2 separate regions of the Homo sapiens genome follow, and region 2 is linked to region 1. A link means that fine-mapping ties the variant in region 1 to the expression of a gene that starts in the linked region. Tissue or cell type: whole blood. Region 1 holds a variant in brackets; the other region holds the start of a gene. All regions are shown on one strand. Distances are from middle to middle.

Evidence for each region. PIP is the estimated chance that this variant, and not a neighbour inherited with it, causes the effect.
Region 2: it holds the start of CD63-AS1, and the variant in region 1 is fine-mapped to the expression of CD63-AS1 in whole blood (TOPMed, PIP above 0.99).

Annotation. Positions count from the first base shown.
Region 1 is chr12:55,673,152-55,675,909 of GRCh38, forward strand. No RefSeq gene overlaps it. Among named protein-coding and RNA genes, the nearest start is that of TMT1B, 7.2 kb to the right of the region's middle. RefSeq lists an enhancer at 467-606. The variant C/T (reference allele first, on the strand shown) is at 1,268.
Region 2 is chr12:55,728,036-55,730,664 of GRCh38, forward strand. CD63-AS1 (CD63 antisense RNA 1) reads left to right here and starts at 1,059. Exons shown (of 2, transcript NR_183514.1): 1 at 1,059-1,320; 2 at 1,627-2,629. It overlaps CD63 (CD63 molecule), which reads right to left and starts at 974. Exons shown (of 8, transcript NM_001780.6): 1 at 918-974; 2 at 241-317. The coding sequence starts at 306. RefSeq lists silencers at 371-670, 941-1,320 and an enhancer at 800-1,406.

The DNA of each region.
Region 1 (2,758 bases):
TTTCATTAATACATCTACTAAATGTGTATTGAGTGGTCCCTGAAACAGGCACTAGAAATGGCCCTGAAGATATTACCATGAAGAGAAAAATATACTCTGGCATTGTAGAGCTAACATGCTAGAGGAGACAGCCAATTTTAAAATATAGACAAGCCAGGCCTGGTGGTGCACACCTGTAGTCCCAGGTACTCAGGAGGCTGAGGCAGGAGGATCCCTTGAGGGCAGGAGTTCGAGGCCACAGTGCTGTAATCACACATATGAATAGCCACTGCACTCCAGCCTACACAACAGAGTGATACACCATCTATAAAATTAAATTAAAATATAGAAAAATTTAAAAGCTTAAATGTGATAAAGGTATTCATCATCTATTTGACATACACATTTTTAGTGTCTACTACTTGCCAGGCACATGCTAGATGCTAAACACGTGGTGATAAGGGAAAAGGACACAATCCTTACTGTTATGGAGCTCATGGGCAGACACTAATACCATAATAACAGTCATGAACAGTATCACAAACTGGCCTAAGGGCTGTTGACCAAAATGAATAAGGGAAGGGATGCTTGATACAAGAACCAAACAATGAGTTAAAAAATTAACTAGGCAGGAGGGAGGAGGGACTGCTGAAAAGAAAGCAAGCATATCAGGAAGAGGAAGACAAGCTCAACAGCACTGAAGCTAAAAGGAGTGAGAGTATGAGGAACTGAAAGAAGATTGTATAGCTAAAACACAGGGTTAAGGGAGGGTAGCATGAGAGGTGGACAGGGGCCAGATCACACAGGGCCTTATGGGCTACAGTAAGGAGTTCAGATTTTGTACCAAAGATAATGGGAATCCACTAAAAGGTTTTAAGCAGTGGGTGAAAGTGGAGAGACAGTTAATGAGGCCCTTGCAGTGGGCCAGGCAGCGGAGGGTCATGATCTGGTCTAGGGTTATGCCAGTGGAGATGAAAGAAATGCATGAAATTAATGAACTGGGAAATAGAGCTGACAGGACTTGTGAGTAACTTGAAAGTTATATATATATTGGCCGGGCGCGGTGGCTCACACCTGTAATCCCAGCACTTTTGGAGGCCAAGGCAGGCAGATCACGAGGTCAAGAGATCGAGACCATCCTGGTCAACATGGTGAAACCCTGTCTCTACTAAAAATACAAAAATTAGCTGGGTGTGGTGGTGCGTGCCTGTAGTCCCAGCTACTCAGGAGGCTGAGGCAGGAGAATTGCTTGAACCCAGGAGGCGGAGGTTGCAGTGAGCCGAGATCG[C/T]CCCACTGCACTCCAGCCTAGCAAAAGAGCGGGACTCTGCCTCAAAAAAAAAGAAAAGAAAAGAAAGTCATATATATGTTATAGAGAGATACAGATGGAGATGAAATGACATGATGTTTGGGATTTGCTTCAAAATGACACACAGGAGAAGGAAGCAGAAAGTAGAAAAGGATGTGGATGGGGAAGGATTGGCTGTGGGTTGATAGTTGTTGGGATGAATGATGTATACATGGGGGTATCTTATACTGTTCTGCCAACTTTTGTGTATATTCAAAATTCTCCATTATACAAAGTTAGAAATGAGAAAAGAAAAGGAGGAGACAGAGAAGAAATAGAATAAATCCTAGGTTTTTGGTTGAGCAATCAAGAAGCTAATGGTGCCATTCACTGAGATGATGAAGAAGATGGGCAGAGTAAGACAAGAGACTTGGGGAGTACCGTAAGTGTCATTTTGGACATGTTAAGTTTTATATGTCCAGAAGATATGCTGAGGAGGAGGATCAAGTACACAACTGGGTATACAAATTTGAAACTCAAAGGAAGGATCTGCACTAAAGATATAAATGTGTGAATAATTTGCATATACATGGCATTTTAAACCATGAAAATGGATGGGATTTGGTGAAAATTATGTGTCAATGTAGGTTCATCAATTGTAATAAATGTCCACTCTGGTGGGGGATACTGATAATGAGGAAGGCTAGTCATGTGTGAGGACAAAGGGTATGTGGAAAATCTCTGTACTTTCCTCAACTTTTCTATGAAGCTAAAACTGCTCTAAAAAATAAAGTCTATATTAAAAAAAAAAAGATGAGGTTATTTAATGAGAGAATTTAGACAGAGAAAGACCCAAGACTAAACCCAAAGAAACAAAATTTAAAGGTCGAGTAGATGAGAAAGATCTAAAAAAAGAAGTTTCTAAGAAGTAACAGCCACGGGAATGTTATAGAAACAAGAAGACTGTTATGTTAGGACAGCCTAGATGAGAGAATTTTTCAAGAAGAAATAGTAGCCAACTATTTCTGAAGCTGTTGAAAAGTCAGATAAGATGAGAACAGGGAATATTCACTGGACCTGGCATGTGGAAATAATTAATAGGCTTGATAATAATAGTTTCGGGTTTCTTTGTTTTGTTTTGTTTTGTTTTTAGAGACAGGGTCTCTCTCTGTCTCCCAGGCTGGAGTACACTGACCCAGTCATGGTTCACTGTAACCCTGAACTTGCAGGCTCAAGCAATCCCCTTGCCTCTGCCTCCTAAGTAGCTGGGGCTACAGGCGCATGCCACCACACCCGGCTAATTGGCTAATTTTTTTATTTTTTGTAGAGAAAAACAACAGCCTATGTTGCCCAAGCTGGTCTCAAACTCCTGGGCTCAAGCAGTCATTTCCTCTCGGCCTCCCAAAGTACTTGGATTACAGGCACGAGCCACCACGCCCGCCCAAAGTCATAATTCTTGAGTCATCTGCTCGTGTTATCTTGGTTTCCTCACCT
Region 2 (2,629 bases), 55 kb after region 1:
AAGGGCCAGGAGGGATGGGGGTAGGGGTTGCTGCACACCCAGGATGGCCATTCTCGGTGGAAACAAGCCTCAGGTGTCCAGGAAAACTGGAGGAGGGAGTGGCTGCGCTGTCTTTCCCTGGCTTTCTTTCCACATCTGGTCTCCAGCTGCCTTAATTCTCATTCCCTCAGCCCTCACCACTGTGGAGCCAGGTCTCCCCGCACCCTGCCGGCGCGCCCCCCAGGACCCCTCGCCACTCACGCAAAAGGCCAGCAGGAGGACGTAGAGCAAGAACTTCACACATTTCATTCCTCCTTCCACCGCCATGGCTGCCGGGCCTGGGGCAGAGGGGAGGGCGGGGGGATTAAAACTGGCCGAAGGGGGACCTCGGTTTCCGGGCTCCCGGCCGGCCCTCGAGGGCTTCCCTTCACGGCCCCGATTCCCGGCCCCTCCCACCCGGAAACCCGCGGTCGGATCCACGTCTCCCAGCCCCCTCTTTACCCGCAGGAGAGGGGTGGGGGCGACGGCCGCGAAGCCCGGACCCCGCCCCGCCGCCTCTGGGGCCCAGGACAGATCCAAGGGCGCCGGCAGGGGCTTGAGCCTGACGCCGACCCTCGGCCCGCCAGTCTCCGGGCGTCAAACACCCTTTCCCCACCCAACACCCAGCCTGGAGAAACGGTCTTCAGCCCAACCCCGACCCCCGCCCCAGCCCCTTTCCCCTGGGCTCTGACCTCCCCGCCCACCAAAAAAAAAAAAAGTGCAGCCAGCACCCCCGCCACACCCTGCCCGGGCCCAGGGAACTTCGAAGCAAAGTTGCTCCAGGGCGGCTGGAGAGCGCCGGACGAGTCTCCGCGGGCCTGGGGCGAGCCCTGGAGGAAGGGACTGCGGGTGGTCTCTCCCAGCCCGCGCCGAAGTCCGCCGGGTCCCCGCGGCCTCACCTGGGCTTCCCAAGGCTGGCTGCGCGTTCCTCTCCCGCCGCGGCTCCGGGGCTCTCTAGCTGCGCCCCCCGGCTCCCGCCCCGCCTGCCGCGCGGCCCCGCCCCGGGCTCCAGCCACGGTCCCCTCCCCCGCCGAGTGGCCGCCGGCCTCCCTCATGTGACGCGGTAACAGCTGCGGCCTGAGTCACTGGGCCCGGCGCGGGGTGGGCCGAGCCCCCCGCCCGGCCAGGGCCACGTGGCCCCTACCCGGAAGAAGGCGCCCACCCCCGCAAAGGGAAAGCCGCAAGGGCAAGACCTCGGGGCGCCTGGGGCCCCCCTCTGGCGCTATACCTCCGTGCCAACTCGGGGTAGGAGAGCGGGGCGGAGCGCAGCCTGGGTCACTCTGGTTCAGAGAAGCGGACGAGGTGGGTGAGAGTTACCCTCTGAGCGCCGGGGCGGAGAGCTGAGGCCGGGTGACAATGTGGTCTGTGAGGTTTCCCCATCCTACCGTAGGGGATGAGCCAGCTCTCTCCTCTGGCTCCAACTCTGTGCAAGCCCCCTCCCCATCCGACTGTGCAGACAGCTGGGGACTGCCTGGGGTCGGGTGGGGCCAGAACAAACACTTCCAGAAAGTCCCTGGCTCACATCCTGGGTGTCTCCCAACATTCTACAGCATTCTAGAGTGGGGATTTCTGGCCCCCCTCTATTAGCACAGCTTCTCCATTTTCCAGGGATCCTAGTCTGAGAAAAGGGGAGGAAGCCCTTCCCCGAAGCCACGCTACCCAGTCAATCAAGACACGTCCGCGTCGGGTCCCGCCCTCTGGGGGAGGATTGACAAGGTCTGTGCTTCCAGCCTCCCAGACAGCTCCTGCATCCGTCTGTGATAGCGAGGGCTTGGGGGAAGACACGAAGGCAGGAGAGGCTTACATCCTCTGGATTTCCCCGTCTTATCCCAGAAGACAAAGCCAGGTGAGGGCTGGAAGCGGGCTAGGGGGATCAAGCTGCCTCCCTCCCTTGTGTGCCAGGGGTGGTCCCCAGAAGGAGCTGATCTGAACAGGCCGGAGAGTAGGACCGGCCGTCACACCCCCACACCTCCAGCCTCGGCCCCACTCCTTGGGCTCTTAAGGTCCTGCCTCAAGAACCACTTCCTGAGTCTTAGTGTATGTGTGTACACAAAGAATGAAAGAAGTCTCTAGAGCTAAAGGAAGGAGATCCGGGCTGGGCTGAGAAGCATCTTCCAGGATCACGGCCTTCCCGCGGGACACACCAAGCCCATTCCGGATCTTGCTCTTCCTGACCATGGCTGGCAGGCTGTGGAGGAGGAGCGGAGAGCAGAAGAAAGGAGTATTCATCAGGTTCCTTATTGTGCTGCCACTAGATGCCAGGCATGTGCTAGGCTTGGGGGCTGCAAGGAGAGGAAGACAGCGGCCCTGCCCTCTGCTAGCAGGCAGAACCGAGTTCTGGCCACACTGTGAAGAAAGGCAGAAGCCTGCGGTGGCAGCTGGTTAAGCTCAGAGGGAGGGAAAGGGAGAGGAGAATGGATTTCACGGAGCAGAAGGATGTGCTCAAGGTGACCTTGGAGAATAAAGGGGAGAGCTCCAGGGACAGAGAAGCAGTCGACTGTGGAAAAAAAAGGAGCATTTTGTAAAGTACATGGCAGGTTGGGGTTGGCTGGCTCAAAGGGCTTGGGACGGATGTGGTGAGATGGGCTGAAGGTGGTCTGAAGATCAAGAT